3 separate regions of the Homo sapiens genome follow, and all the other regions are linked to region 1. The links come from fine-mapping of genetic effects on gene expression. A gene starts in region 1. Each other region holds a variant in brackets. All regions are shown on one strand. Distances are from middle to middle. Region 1 holds the start of ITPK1 (inositol-tetrakisphosphate 1-kinase). Region 2 overlaps ITPK1 (inositol-tetrakisphosphate 1-kinase). Region 3 overlaps ITPK1 (inositol-tetrakisphosphate 1-kinase).

What was found. PIP is the estimated chance that this variant, and not a neighbour inherited with it, causes the effect. A credible set is the group of variants that fine-mapping cannot tell apart.
Region 2: its variant is the best candidate, but not a certain one, in a credible set for the expression of ITPK1 in whole blood (INTERVAL, PIP 0.62).
Region 3: its variant is the best candidate, but not a certain one, in a credible set for the expression of ITPK1 in monocytes (Quach 2016, PIP 0.86).

Annotation. Positions count from the first base shown.
Region 1 is chr14:93,112,803-93,117,802 of GRCh38, forward strand. It overlaps ITPK1 (inositol-tetrakisphosphate 1-kinase), which reads right to left and starts at 3,123. Exons shown (of 11, transcript NM_014216.6): 1 at 2,970-3,123; 2 at 2,267-2,503. The coding sequence starts at 2,361.
Region 2 is chr14:93,060,831-93,065,830 of GRCh38, forward strand. All of the region lies in intron 3 of ITPK1 (inositol-tetrakisphosphate 1-kinase), which reads right to left. Among named protein-coding and RNA genes, the nearest start is that of ITPK1-AS1, 4.1 kb to the right of the region's middle. The variant A/C (reference allele first, on the strand shown) is at 2,038.
Region 3 is chr14:93,050,966-93,055,965 of GRCh38, forward strand. All of the region lies in intron 3 of ITPK1 (inositol-tetrakisphosphate 1-kinase), which reads right to left. Among named protein-coding and RNA genes, the nearest start is that of ITPK1-AS1, 14 kb to the right of the region's middle. The variant C/A (reference allele first, on the strand shown) is at 2,369.

The DNA.
Region 1 (5,000 bases):
CCCGTCGTCAGTACAGAAGCCCTGCGCCCCCAGATTCTGAATGTGGAAAACATGATAATGTCCTTTGCACTGTCTCTCAGCCACTAAAGTCTCATTGGCCCTCACACCAAACAAAACAACCTCACGGGGCTCCCTGGTCACTGGCTCAACAGTTGCAGCATTTTGCAGCCAGTATAGAAATGTGGCCACCAGGGGGCACTGCCCTGAAAGTAATAAATAAGAAACGGAAAAACTCTTTGGTGTTTTCTTTTCCTTCTTAGGCTTAAGTGATAAAATATCTAAAGCTTCCCTAGTGAAAACACAAAGTGGGCTTCCTCGGGTTCTAGAATGGCCCTGATGACTTCTGCCTTCTTTGAAGCCAATATTTTGGCCAAAGGAAGGCAACTAGACTTTGAAGACAACAACTCTTTCAGAGAAAGTAATGCTCTACTCCCCAGAACGTTGATAGCATAGCTTGCTCTGAACCTCCCACCCCTTTAAAGGAAGAATGTCTACAAGGTCAAGCCAATCTGCAGGTCCAGCACGAGGACCTAGTTGTGAGTCTCGGCGAAGAATATTTTGCGAGAGCCTCCTAATTACCAAGCAAAACAAGCCAACCCAATGACAAGCCTCAAGCTTGAGTTGCAGACACAAGATGACATAAATACAGACAGCAGTACAAAGGGTGCGAGGTATTCGCTGGGATTTCCCAAGTCTTACATGACTGCAGGGGGAGCTCCGGTGCCTCACATCAGAACTGGACTTCGAGAACATGCCAAAGCAGCTGCTCCAAATTTCTTTAGTGTCTTAGAATGCCCTTCCCACAAGTGAGTGTATCCGCGGTACAACGTTCAAGTACCCTTTTGTAATGTTCCAAGGGTCCTAAGACTCATTTTCAAAGCTCTGGCTTCGAGCTCCTCCTGATTTCTTCATGAATTGCTGGGGCCACTCTGCATGCCCTATTGATCATGAAGAGCCTGTCTTCTAGGGAAACCGGCCTGGGAGAAGGCAGCCAACCCCATCCCCAGACCAAGGGATAAAGAACCAGGCACTATCCTGTACAAGCTGTGCCCCTCTGGCTGCAGGAAGAGCGCCTGCGGGGCTTGCACGGGGCAAAGGAGCAGCAGGCCCTTGGGAAAGGCATGAGGCACACAGAGGTGCTGCCAGGCTCACCTGCGCATGCCAGCTCAGACCAGCCACGGGCCCCCAGGAGCACCAGGGGTTACGGAAACCCAACTGTTCAATTCTCCAAGATGTGTGGGGCCCCCACAGGGACAAAAATGCAAGTAGAGCCCATTTTCAAAAATCAGTCTAACAAGCTGCATCACAAAAGGTTTCCACCTGGAGTTTGCAAAAGGCTTTCAGAGCTAGATTCTCTTAGGCTTGCATTGAGAAAAGGGCTTAACTGCTTCTCAGAGGCAAAGCTACAGTTGTGGAGCAAGGGAAGGCCTACCTGACCCAAGACTCAGTAGTTCTGTAATTTATTAAGAACGTGATCTGTTAAACACCGGAGACTCCGCCAAGGAGCACCAGCATGGTGGGAGCAGGGGCACACAGCCCAGATGGCAGAAGGCCACTCCACACCACGGGCATTTACCCAGCACTTTCTACGCACCAGCCACTCCCTAGCTGCGGGACCCCAAGCTAGGTACCCCGCTCCTCTGCCGATCGGTCCCCGTTCTCAGACAGGTGGCCCAGAATCACCACCCTGGCCAATTTGCAGGGCTGCTGCGAGGCTCTAATGAGACAGCAAATCACCACATACATGCCAAGAATTGCTACTCGCTTCAACTGGGCTTAACCTCATGATATGCAATGACAGCCTCAAGAGCCGAGCACACGCGGGGCACATAGTAGGTGGTCCACAAACGTGGGTGCCCTTTCTTCATGAAAGGGAAGGGGACGAAGGAAGAAAAACACTCCGGTCCAAAAGTACCCTCAAGCCCTTACCCCACAGCGTGGATGCCCCGATTTCCCAGGTCCCTCCGCAACCCTCAGTAGAACTCCCACCGCGCCCTGGGCTGCTGGGGGCCTCCCCAGCCGGGTCACAGTGCACCTGAACGCCCCGGTCCGTGCCACCTCGCCCGCACCGGCCACCGCTTCCCTGGAACGCGGCCGGCGGCCGCCACCGCCACCTGGCTGCTCGGACTCAGTCTCCCCGCGCGCCGCTTCTTCCCGTTTGGCTCCGATCTCCCAAAACAACTAATGAGGCTGCACCGGGCTCGGGCCGGGGGTCACCGGGCTCGGGCCGGGGGTCCCCGGGCGCCGGCGCCGCGTCCCTCCTTACCTGCACAGCTCGGCGAAGGCCTGGAAATTCAGCTTCTTGATTTTCTTCTCGCTCAGCCAGTAGCCAACTCTCTTCCCTTTCAGAAAGGTCTGCATCTTCCTCCTCGGGCGGGGAGCCTGGGTCCGGAGGAAATCGCCCACAGGCCGAGTCTGGCGGCCGGCGCGCGCCGCGAGCGAGTGGGCACCTCCTCCCGGCGGCGGGGACGCGGAACGGGGATCGGAGCTGGGGCGCGCAGTCCTGCCGCGCGGAGCGGAGCGGGGCGGGGCGCGGCGGGCGGCCGGGAGGAGGGAGCGGCGCTCAGCGCGGAAGGCCACTGGCTGGGCCAAGCTGCCACCGCCCACGCCCCCGCCGCCTGCGGGCTCGCCCGCCCGCCCACCGGCTCGCGAGCGCCGCGCCGCCCGGCCTGCCGGCTGAGGCTGGGGCACGGCTGAGCCTGAGTCTGAGTCGGAGCTGGGGCCAGGGCCCGCAGGAGGGGAAGCCGGGCCTCCGCAGACACCGCCCCCGCCCTGCCCGCCCTCCCGCCGCGCGGGCCCGAGCCACACGCCCTCAGGCGGCGGCAGAAGCGCGGCCTCCGAGCCCTTCCTCCCTCCTCCTCCCGCCCGGGTCCTCGCCCTCTGATGTTCCCAGCCGGGCCGTAACCCCTGGGCGCGCTTGGACCCCGGCGGGGCGCACGCGGCCACTCGGCCCGGCCAGAGATCCTCACCCGCCGCCGCCGCCGCCACTTCCTCCTCGGCCTGGTCCTCGCGCGCTGCCCGCCGAGAAGGGCGGCGGCGAGCGCCCGCGCACTCGCCGCCCCTGCCCGCCGCCGCCCCGCGCTGGCCCGGCCGCCCCGCTTGAGCCCGCGGCGGCGAGGAAGCGGCGGGGCGGCCGCCAGGGGGCAGCGCCGCCCGCCGCCTCTTAAAGGCGCCGCGCCGGCCCTCGCGGCTACCCGGCGCCTGTTTGTGTCCCCGGGTGTGGGGTGCGGGGCGCGGGGCTTCCTGGGGGCGGCCGTGGCCCGGCGGTCTTACTTCGGGAAGGGAGCCGCGGTGTGGGCGTGTGTTCCGCCTGGCCTTTGGGGGCGACCGAGCCGCTGAGTTTCGGAAACGTCTCTGTACCCCCAGCAGGGTTCAGCACCCCCAAGGCAATCCATTGCAACTGCGCCCGGAAGGAGACCTTCCAGGAATTCGCCCCTTCCCTCGAGGAAGCGGACCCTGGCCCAGGATGGGGCCCCCCGGGGGGGTGGGTGAACACCCAGGGGCCCTCCTAGGCGTAGGACGTGACCACCAGTTCTCACTCTAGGTCCCCTTCACTGAGGGGGGAAGGGGCGGGGACTGGAGGCGACAGCGACAACAGCGGCCGTCCCCGGAGACCCCTTCCTCAGGGGTGCGGGTCAGCGTCGGCGCCGGGGAGTCACTAAACCCCGCCTACCCTGCCCTGCCCTATGGGGCAGCCAGGGAGCTTTCCTGCCTCAATGGTCTCTGGGTTTGGGAAGGAGAAATGGACTTCTCTCCCCAGGCCCAGGCAGGAAAAATGGATTCCCGTGGAGGGAAGGCTCAGAAAAGTTTGAGAGGAGACACTGAAGCTGGCCTTGGAAATCAAGGAGATTTTGATGGAGCAGGGAAGGGGGATGAGCTTGAATTGAGGCTGGGAGACAAGAAAAAGCCAAGTTGCCAGCGGGTGACCAAGACTTCCCTTGATCACACTTGAGTCAGGCTCCTCCGAGACCTCTTTCTGACCAGGCCCCGACCTTGGGCTCTGTCCTTGGCCTTCTTAGTCCAGTTTTAGCCAGAATCCTGCTGTCAAGAATATCTCCACGCTTGGTATGTGATCACCCTGGCCGGCCTACATTAAGAAACTCCGTCTCAAAAAAAAAAGAAAGACAAGGATCTCTCTATGCTGCCCAGGCTGGAGTGCAATGGTGCAGTCATAGCTCACTGCAGCCTCGAACACCCCTGCTAAACTGATCCTCCCACCTCAGCCTCCCGAGCAGCTGGGACTACACTGTGTTGCCCAGGCAGGTCTCGAACTCCTGGCCTCAAGCTGTCCTCCCACCTGGGCCTCCCAAAGTGCTGGGATTGTAGACCTGAGCCACCCCGCCTGGCTTCCCTGCCATCTTTAACGAGAATCTGATTAGTTTTTTTCTTTAACAAGGTAGAGAAAACGGATGGATGGAGAGTGGAAAAGACGATGGGTGGGAAACAGGACTCCTCCAGGGGGCCAGCTAGGGACGGGCACTGCATGCCTTAGGCAAGGGTACTGCGAGTTTCATAGGCCATGGGAGCCTAGAAGGTAAGTGGTGACAGGTTCCAGGGTCAGCTCTGTGGCTTAGAATGCCTGGCTCCTGGGGGGGACATGGAAAGCTGGATAAAGGGAAGATCATAGCAAGGACCCCTAGGGCCGAGGCACAAGATGGATAAAAGAAGGCTAAGGGAGGCTGCGCATGGTGGCTCATGCCTGTAATCCCAGCACTTTGGGAGGCCGAGGTGGGCACATCATGAGGTCAGGAGATTGAGATCATCCTGGCTAACACGGTGAAACCCTGTCTCTACTAAAAATACAAAAAATTAGCCGGGCGTGGTGGCGGGCGCCTGTAGTCCCAGCTACTTGGGAGGCTAAGGCAGGAGAATGGCGTGAACCTGGGAGGCAGAGCTGGCAGTGAGCTGAGATCGTGCCACTGCACTCTAGCCTGGGCAACAGAGTGAGACTCCGTCTCAAAAAAAAAAAAAAAAAAAGAAGGCGGCTAAGGGAGTAAAAA
Region 2 (5,000 bases), 52 kb before region 1:
TCAGTTTCCTCATCTGCAAAATAGGGAGAATAATAAATAGATCCCATCTCACAGAGCTATTATGAGAACTAGGAAGATAAAAGTAAAAAAGTCCAAGGCAGAGGGGGACACAGGCTCCACAATGACAAGGATTTTGGTTCAAGGTCAGGTAGCTGGGGTTCCCTGGAACAGTGACCCACACCCACAACAAAAGTTCCACTCCAAATCTGGACTGGCTCCATACCACTAGGGAATCACTGGAGGGATCACTCCAAAAGACAACTTAACATGCAAGCTGGTGTTTGATACTCTTCAGAAATTAACTTTCCGGACTGCAATTCCCCAAATGACTCCTAACCCTCCACCACTAGCTGCAGATTCCTCAACACAGATCTGGGGCCAGGCTGTGTGATAAGTACTTTGACACTGTATCTCAATTACCCTTCTTAACCTTAGAGGTTGGTGTTACGACAACCCCTTTTTCCAGGCAAGGAGGCTGAAGCACCCTCGGTGCTGGGAAGAAGCAAGACCAGAGGCCACCCGGGGACCACCCACCTCCTCCAGAGCCCACCACTCCTTCCTCCTCTCCCTGGGGTGAGGAACAATTGCAAGGGGAGAAAAGTCCATGGGCACAGCTGCGGCTAGGCTACAGCCCCCAGCCTCATGGGCAGAGAGAGTGGGTCTGGGGCAGGAGTGAGAAAGGAGGGGAGGGAGGGCACATGAGAGAGAAATGAGTTGCTGTATGCGTGCCTGGTGCACAGGTGATAACACAGCATTCAAATCTAGAAGCACAAACTCCCACAAGACCTTCCCTTTCTGTAATTCCCCAAAATGCAGGGGTTTGTTTATTTCACCAAGAAGTACATATTCCTCCTACAGACTACAAAAACAATATATACAACTTACTTATGTAACCCAAAGAAATAATCATCACAGGCTTGCCCAAACAGTATCAAAAGTGGATGTTTATCACAATACTATTTATAAAGGTGACAGACCAGAACCATGGTCAGCATCAACCAAGGGAATCAAAGAACTTCAGTTACAATCAGATAATATTATGCAGTCATTTAAAAAGCAAGCCTAAGTAGACATTTAACAAAGGGGGAAGCTCTAAGAGAATGCTAAGTGTGTTTGTGGGAACAGATTACAACAGAACCACAACTTTGTTTACAACTATGTCAAGGCTGGTGGCTCGCGCCTGTAATCCCAACACTTTTAGAAGCCGAGGCGGGCAGATCACTTGAGGTCAGGAGTTCAAGACCACCCTGGCCAACACGGTGAAACCCCATCACTACTAAAAATACAAAAATTAGCCAGGCATGGTGGCGCGTGCCTGTAATCTCAGTTACTCTGGGGTCTGAGACAGGAAAATCGCTTGAACCTGGGAGGCGGAGGTTGCAGCGAGCCAAGATCGAGCCATTGCACTCCAGCCTGGGCGACAGAGCGAGATTCCATCTCAAAAAAAAAACTGCATCAAAGATGTTGGTGCACACCATGGTCCCAGCTACTAAGAAGGCTGAGGTGGGAGGATTGCTTGAGCCCAGGAGTTCAAAGCTGCAGCAAGCTATGATCGCACCACTACACTCCAGCCTGAGTGACAGAGCAAAACCCCATCTCTAAAAAAAGTTTAATTAAAAAAAAAAGTTTTTTTAATGCATCAGTGTGTGTGCCATTTTTATGCTCAAAGGACATGAATAAAGTCACACTTTATTCACATTTTAGTGTGCTGGTTATCCTTCGGCTAGGGAGTAACACATTTTGTTCCCACAAGCTACACAGGAGGCTCTCCAGACCTTCCTGAAAGGCACTTTCAAACCTGCTTCTGGAGGGTCAGAACATCATGCAGGACAGAGGTCAGGCACTAGCAGGAGGCCCTGGTCCCACGGCAGGTCTGTGCTATTTGAAGTCGTAAAGCAGGTCAATGGTGGCCCAGTGTGAGGGGCTGCAGGGGCTGCCAGGCTCACAGTCAAGGCCAGGGCCTGGCCTACCATACACCAAGGCGTTTCATCTTCTCCCCAAGAAGATATACTGGGTGGGCAGGGGTCCTTGTCCCTG[A/C]TGGACAAAGGAAGGCACTGAGGGCTCAGACAGCAAAAATAACCGAGGGTCCTGAGCGATCCGGCGGAATATTTGGTCGACAGGAAAACTCATCAAGTCCTGCCCTCACCAGGCCCCAAAGCCCTGGCTTAAGGGAGGGCCAGGCCTGGCATTTGTCAAGATTTAACAAGTTCAGTAAATGTGCGCCCCCACCCCACCCCCATCTCCCATCTCTCTCCCACGCCAGACCCTTCTCCAAGCCCCACTCCTTGGCCATTAGCTCAGTCCCAAAGGCATCCTTGCCCATCCCGGCTGCCGATGATCCTGTCAAAACACTGTAAATAACTTATTTCTACTTGGCAGGGCCTGCGGCAAAAATACTGCCTGGGCAAGGAAGGGAGTGAGCCAAGGTCTGCCTCCAAGCCAGGACCCACACCCTCCTGCCCAGGGACCCCTGGTCCCCCACCCACCTGAGATGGCAGAGACCCACAGTGGAGGCCAAACTCCTGCCCAGTGAGACAGGGGTGTGAGCTTCACAAGACCCCTCGAGTCATCTCAGGAGCCAGAAAACCAGTGAGCTTCCCACTCCCCACAGCCCCACACAGCACACTAAGCCCTGTCCCTGACCTCAGGCTACCCACGCTTCTCCTACGAGGGCCTGAGTTTTAGAAGGCCTTCTCACTTGCCCTCCCCTCGTCTCAATCATCCATCTCATCACCATCTGGTAGATGGGCCTCAGAGAGGTTGTGCCACTACCCAGGACTGCACAGCCTTGGAGGGATGGAGCTGGAACTAGGGAGGAGTCACTGGACTCTCACCAGGCAGGCAGTCTTCGGAGCAGAAGAGGCACTGGCTATGCCATCACACCTCTAGAATCCAATCCCAGCTCCACAGCTCACATGCTAGGCTGTGACAAGCCCACCTGTGTGAGCCTCAGTCCTCTCACCTGGCAAGTGGGGCACTAACCCTGGCACTCAGTAGACGAGGCACACACAGGAGTTCTCACTGCTGCTGCCTGGGCTGCTCATAGAAGCCCAGCCCAGACGCCAAACGCACTTTGGAATTTTTACATGCGCATTCTAGAACTCTGAAGCAATCCTACTAGGTGCTTACTGCCCAGACAACAGGGCTGGTGACCTTTAAAAAAAAAAAATTGGCCGGGCATGGTGGCTCACACCTGTAATCCCAGCACTTTGGGAGGCCAAGGTGGGTGGATCACGAGGTCAGGAGATTGAGACCATCCTGGCTAACATGGTGAAACCCTGTCTCTACCAAAAATACAAAAAATTAGCCGGGCGTGGTGGCGGGCACCTGTAGTCCCAGCTACTTGGGAGGCTGAGGCAGAAGAATGGCGTGAACGTGGGAGGCAGAGCTTGCAGTGAGCCGAGGTCGCGCCACTGCACTCCAGCCTGGGCGACAGAGCGAGACTCCATCTCAAAAAATAAAAATTAAAATTTTCGTAGAGATGGGGTCTCACTATGTCGCCCAGGCTGGTCTTGAACTCCAGGCTTCAAGCAATTCTCCTGCCTTGGCCTCTCAAAGTGTTGGGATTACAGACACAGGCCATCATGCCTGGCTGCTGGTGGCCTTCCTGCAGAGAATCCAGGAGCTCTAAATGTTCCCCCAGGACACCTGATCAAAGCCCCCTCTCAGGCCTCTGTACCCCATTCCCACCGGAACCCTGGGAGCCACCCCAGGCGGCTTCTGTAGAAGTGCTGAGTGAGCCCCATGCACCACCGCCAAGTTTCTGGGACACAGCTGCAGGGCCGGGCACCAGCAAGCCGGGATCTCCTTATAGGGTATACTCTAAGGCCATTGCATAAAGCTCAAAAAGAGAAAGACTCAGATTGACAGTCGAGCTGGAAAACAGGCCTGTGAAAGGAGAACTAGACACCAGGGCAATCAGGTCCCTGAAAGGGCTGTCTCTGCCTACCATTTGTGCAGAACATCAGAGAACTTGAGGCAAAGACGGGAGCCACTGTGCTTCCCAGGGGAGTTCTTGAGCTGAGGGTGGATCAAGGGGAAGGAGAAAGACAGAGCCAAGTTACAACTCTGGATTTACACAGCTTTTGGAAAAGTCACGATGAGTGTGCGGGGAATCCCTGGGACCTCCCCTGCCCATAATGAACTAGCACGGGAGGGGGTCATGGGGCTAGGGTCAGGGGTCAGCACTCCCTGGGGGTGATGCCTTCACCCCATCATGGCTAGACCTGGGGAGATCCAGAAAGAAGGAAAACATAAATCAGCCCATGCCCCCAAATGCACCCCAGCCAGAGCAAAATCTGCTCTAACCCCAGAGGACAAGCTGGGACCTCACTCACTCACAGCAGGAGACTCATCCCTGGTCAGCCCTGCTTTAGCCAAACCAAACAGACATAACTTATGCTACAGACATTTCTGGCTTTTTTACTCATGAAAATAAATCAAACAGAAGAGATCCTTTCATTTTGGCTCATCTACCCATCGCATCATTTAACTACACAACACACCTCATTCAGACTCACGCTTCCCTGGGCCACTGAGGATGACAATGATGGTGGTGGAGGTGGCACCAGTAAATAATCACAAACAGCTCCTTCTGAGGACAAACTAGGTAAACAGGTTCTGTGCTGTTCCTTATCTGCATGACCTCACTCCTGGAACTCTATGAGACTGGGTCCATTATTATTTCCATTTTACAGAAGAATAAACTGAGGCTTAGAGGGGGCAAGTAACCTGTCCAGTTCTAAGTCCAGGGCCCAAGTGTGCTGGACACAGCTGACTAGCTGCAGCCCAACCTGTCCCCCATTCTCCCCTTCTTCTTTAGCAACAAAATCCTGAAGTCACTTCTAGACCATAACCCAATGAAACAGCCTGAGATGTGACTTAGGTCCCCAAAGATTTAGGTCCAGAGACACCCAGGGCAGGACTGTTAGTAACAGCAAACCAGAAATAACCTAGAACTTGAGACTCTGGAGCAGAGAAATGGTTCTAGATGCTGGGAC
Region 3 (5,000 bases), 62 kb before region 1:
CCCACTAAACTGGAAGCTCCTTAAGGACCGGGATGTGGCAGTTTTGCTCTCAGCTATGTGCCCAGTGCTCAGCACAGGGCCCGGCCTGCCTGGGCACTCAGAAGGACACCTGACGGACAAGGAACCAATCAAACGGTGATGGCCACACTCCACCCCCAGGACCTGACAGCCAACAGTCATCACGCACCTGGCAGGCCCACAGCTCTCTGCACATACACATGCCTCAATTTCCCAGGCATGGGGGAGCTGAATATCCCAGGATTCTGCCCCAGACACCATGGTTTTCAAACTCTCTCTGACCTCAAATGTCTTTCCTGAAATGAAATCTAACATGCAGACCCCAGATCAAACACAGATCAAGAGAGAGTGGCTGGGAAAGGTGGCTCACACCTGTAATCCCTGCACTTTGGAAGGCCAAGGCGGGCGGATCGCTTGAACTCAGGAGTTTGAGACCAGCCTGGGCAACATAGTGAAACCCTGTCTCTCCTAAAAATACAAAAACCAGGCAGGCTTGGTGGCGCATGCCTGTAATCCCAGCTATTCAGGTGGCTGAGGCAGGGGAATCGCTTGAGCCTGGGAGGCGGAGATTGCAGTGAGTCCAGATCATGCCACTGCACTCCAGCCTGGGTGATGGATGAAACTCTGTCTCAAAAGAAAAAAAAAAAAAAGAAAGAGCTGCTCAGGTGAAGGGAGTGGTGAGCAACTCATCCCCCTTGAAAAGCAGGTACCCCTTCAAGGAACCCCTAGGGGTGCCTCATAGCCAAGCGTGAAAGCCAATTCAATGAGACCGGAAACCACCCTGTGCCTCCAAATGTCTCAGCATGGGGAATGGAAGACAGCAGATTGGGCGGAAGCCCTTCCATTGTAACGCTAACTCACTCCCTAATCCCTGCCACTGTTATGGCTATGGGGTACTCACCTCTGCAGTTTTTGGCTAAGAAATGCCAAGAATAAGTACCTATTTCAAGAACAACTCTGTTGTGAGAAATTCCAGCACATTCCACTCTGAGGGCACCACCATCTTCACCCTTTTGTAGCTGGAGCTTGCACCAGGGGAGCGCCTTCATCTCTGCCTGGAGGGGCCACGTGGTGGAAGGGGAATAAGACAGCAGAAAGCACAGAGATTTGGGTGGCAGAGTCCCCAGGCCAAATCCCAGCTCTGCCATTTAAAAGATCTGTGACCATGGGCAAGTTATTTAACCTTTCTCAACTTCAATTTCCATATCCAAAAGGTAGGATAATTAATTGTCCCTGCAGCTTGTAGGACTGTCTTTGGGTTTATATGAGGGATTTTTTTCAAGTGCTTTATAAACCACTCCCAAATGTTAGCTCTATTTACACTGATTTTATTGCTGGGCTCCTAGGAGGCCAAAGGCAACAGACTTAGTTTCCACTAAAGGTCTTTTATTACAACAGACGCCAGGCATCTAGGGCGGCCTGTTGTCTGAAGAACAGCCTGATTCTCCCATAATCCCAAGCTCTCCAAGGTCTAAGTCTCGATACCAGGCCCTGGCTGACTCTCTGACCCAGGGAGGCCTGGTCTGGGTTGTTCTTACCCTGGGGGCCTTATCTGTCCTTCTGTGAGGGCCAAAGGAACCCCCAGTGGGGTAGGGGGACGGGAGATCCTTCAGTGGGGCCAGAGACGGCCTGAGAGTGACTCAGTGGGCTGGAAGTTCGCCCCCAAGCCTCACCGGCCTTCTGGCTCACTCTATATTCAATATAATACCTGCCCGCACCACCACCCTCCCTCCAAACCCAGGTCCCCAAGGGGCTGGTGGTACAGGAAACAGCCCTACATCTCCCATCCCAGGGTTCAGTCCCTCACTCAGAACTGGGAAAGGGGCCGGGCACAATCTCCCAGATGCCCCAAAGACTTGGAAAGCGCTCTGGTGGCTTTCTGAGCAGGCACATCTGGCCCAACCACACCTTTCGTCACCACTGTTTAAAACCAGTGGTTCTCCACATGGACACAGGAAGGGGAACATCACACACCAGGACCTATTGTGGGGTGGGGGGAGGGGGGAAGGGGGAGGGATAGCATTAGGAGATATACCTAATGTTAAATGACGAGTTAATGGGTGCAGCACACCAACATGGCACATGTATACATATGTAACAAACCTGCATGTTGTGCACATGTACCCTAAAACTTAAAGTATAATAAAAAATAAAAATAAAATAAAAAATAATAATAAAAAAAAACCAGTGGTTCTCAGACAGAGGGGCTCACAAGCAGGGTCAACATCACCTGGATACCTGTTACAGATGTGGATTCTCAGCCCCCTCAGACCTACTGGTTCAGAGACCCTGGGAATGGGGCCAGCCACCTGTTTGAAGATGTGCTCCCTGGGGGTTCCAGTGCACACTC[C/A]AGTTTGAGAACCATTACTTCAATCCAGTGGTTCCCCACCCGCCCCTCTCCCGGCTGCCTGTTGTCCTGGGGGCCTCATGACAGCCAGTGCTCAAGAGCTGCCCCAGAGATCTGGATATAATTGATGCCACCCCATCAGCACTTCTTTTTAGAAGTGCTTTAAAAAGAACAGGCGGTGCAGAGGACTTTCACGGTAGTGAAGCTGCTCTGTATGGTATGGTAATGGTAGATGCAGGTCACTATGCATGTGTCCAAACCCACAGAATGTGCAACACCAAGAGTGAGCCCTATGCACACTGGGGACTTCAGGTGATCCTGATGCACCCAGGGAGGTTCACTGATTGTAGCAAATGTTCCAGGCTAGCGTGGGATGTTGACAGTAAGGGGGGCTGCATGTGTGTCAGGGTAGGGCAGATACGGGAAGTCTCTGCACCTTCCTCTCAATTTTGCTGTGAACCCAAAACTGCTCTAAAATAGAGTCTATTAAAAATCAATCTCCCAGGTGACTGTGATTCCAGTAGTCTCTGGAGCCTGGGCTGATGTTTGGGAGGTAGACGGGACAGCCAGGCTTCAGAAACAGCAGGTAAAACTACCCAGTTGTGGAGTCATCTGGGAAGATTCTAGATGGAGGGAAGTCAGACTGAAGTAGGGAGAGATGGGGTCGGGGAAGGAAGCGAAGAGCAAAGGCTTAGAAGCACTTCCTGGCAGCCCACCCAGCACTTCATGCATCCAACCCTGACTGAACATCTTCTTTCCCCACATCCCCTCCACCCTGTCAGTGGGTCAAGTGCTAGCCTGGGATTCACCCCACTTAGAGGTAGAGTCCCCACTTCTAGCAAGTGAACCGAGCCAGTCACCCACGTGTAGCTGCTTTGACGTCATCTGTAAACAGGGTACTGTGGGGCTGGACTAAGACACAGCCCAGTGCCTGGCACAGGGCAAACAAGTAATAAACGCAGGTTTTAATAAACTGATTGACAGAAACTGGAGCCCATGTCTGCTGCATGGAAAACAGCATCCAGACAACGGGTGGTCTTATCTCCTGCCAGTACCACCTCTCTGGCTTGGAGGTTAGACTTAAAGCACAGGAGGGAACCCTGTTTCTCCATGCCCAGAAACAGACCCTATATTCCCAAAGACAAGCTAAAACCATTGGGAAAAAAACAAAAAACCATTCAATCTGTAAATGCTCACTGTCTATTCTAACTAGACACTGGGCCAGGGGGTACAGAACATGTACTCCCTTGATTACAGAGAGGCTCCAGTCCAGTGAAGAGCAAGAAAGATGCCGCTGGGGCTACTGGCTTCTCACCAGGTGGTTCATCCTCGGAGCCTGCATCACTCCTGGCAAGGAGAGCTTCAGGAGGGGCGGTGGCCATGTCCTGATATGTACGGTGGCTTGAGAACCAATGTTCTAGAGAATCTAAGGGCATATATTACAGAAAACAGCACTCTCTCTGCCTCTCATGGCTTTTTTCCCCTTCTGTTTCTTTCTTTTATAAGCCTTTCACTGAAGTATAACATAAGAAAGGAAGGACATGCCATAAGTGAACAGCTTGAATATTTCACAAACTGGCACCCAAGAGGAAGACTGAGGAGAGGACAGTTGCAAGACACCAGCAGGCTCCTCACATTCCCACCCGGCACCTTGTCCCCAAAGGTGACCGCCAGCCTGCCTCCTGTCCCCAGAGAGTAGCTTGGCCTGGTCAAGATCTTCATGTAAATGGAATCAGACACTGAATACGCCTCTGCACCTGGCATCTTTGGCCACGTTTCATGCCTATGGGACTCATCCATGGTTCATTCTCACTGCTGTATTCGATACAACTCCATGGCCAGATGATAACACAGGTCATGTACGTACCCATTCTACAGCCAATGGGCATGCGTGCTGTCTCCTCTTTGAGGCCATCAGGAATGCTGCTGCTGGGAACATTCATTCTACACGTGTCTTTTGGTGGACACAGCCCTCCTTTCTCTTGGGTACATGCCATGGAGGATTTGCAGGGCCAAAGGGTCAGCATCTCCTCAGCTTTAACCAAGCCATGTTCCCAAATCCCACACCAGCCCTCAGCCCCTTACTCTCCTTCATTTTTCTCCCAGTCCCCCTCCCCCACCTCACTCGCCACCCACACTTCTTTCTGTTTTCAGTCTCTCAACCTAGACACAAGTGCTCCACGAAGGCAGAGGGATTTGGGGTTTGTTTACTGGGACTCTCCCGAGCCTCGGTGCTGCCTGGCCCAGAACAGATACTCAAGGGACATACAAATGCCACCTGAACTTCTGCACTCACCTGCGCATGAGCTCGGGACTCCTCTCAGCTGTCCCCTCCCATGCCTCCCTCCCACAGCGCCTTTCCAAAGTCCAAGGACCCATCCTTATCCGGTCCTAGCCCCAACTGCCAGTCAGGCCTCAGGTAGAAACTGAAGGTGCCCAGCGGTCCCTACCACTCCCCGGGCAGAGAGTACAGGCTCTTGGAAGAAGTCCAGACTCAAGTCTCAGCCTTGTGAAGCCAGCTGACTGGAGTGGCAATGACTCCACAGACCTTCCTGAGCGCTGGCTGGGGTCTGAGCACCCAGCAGACGGGAGGAGCAGCCGGGGCACCCAGTGAGGTCACGGCTAGGGAGGTGAA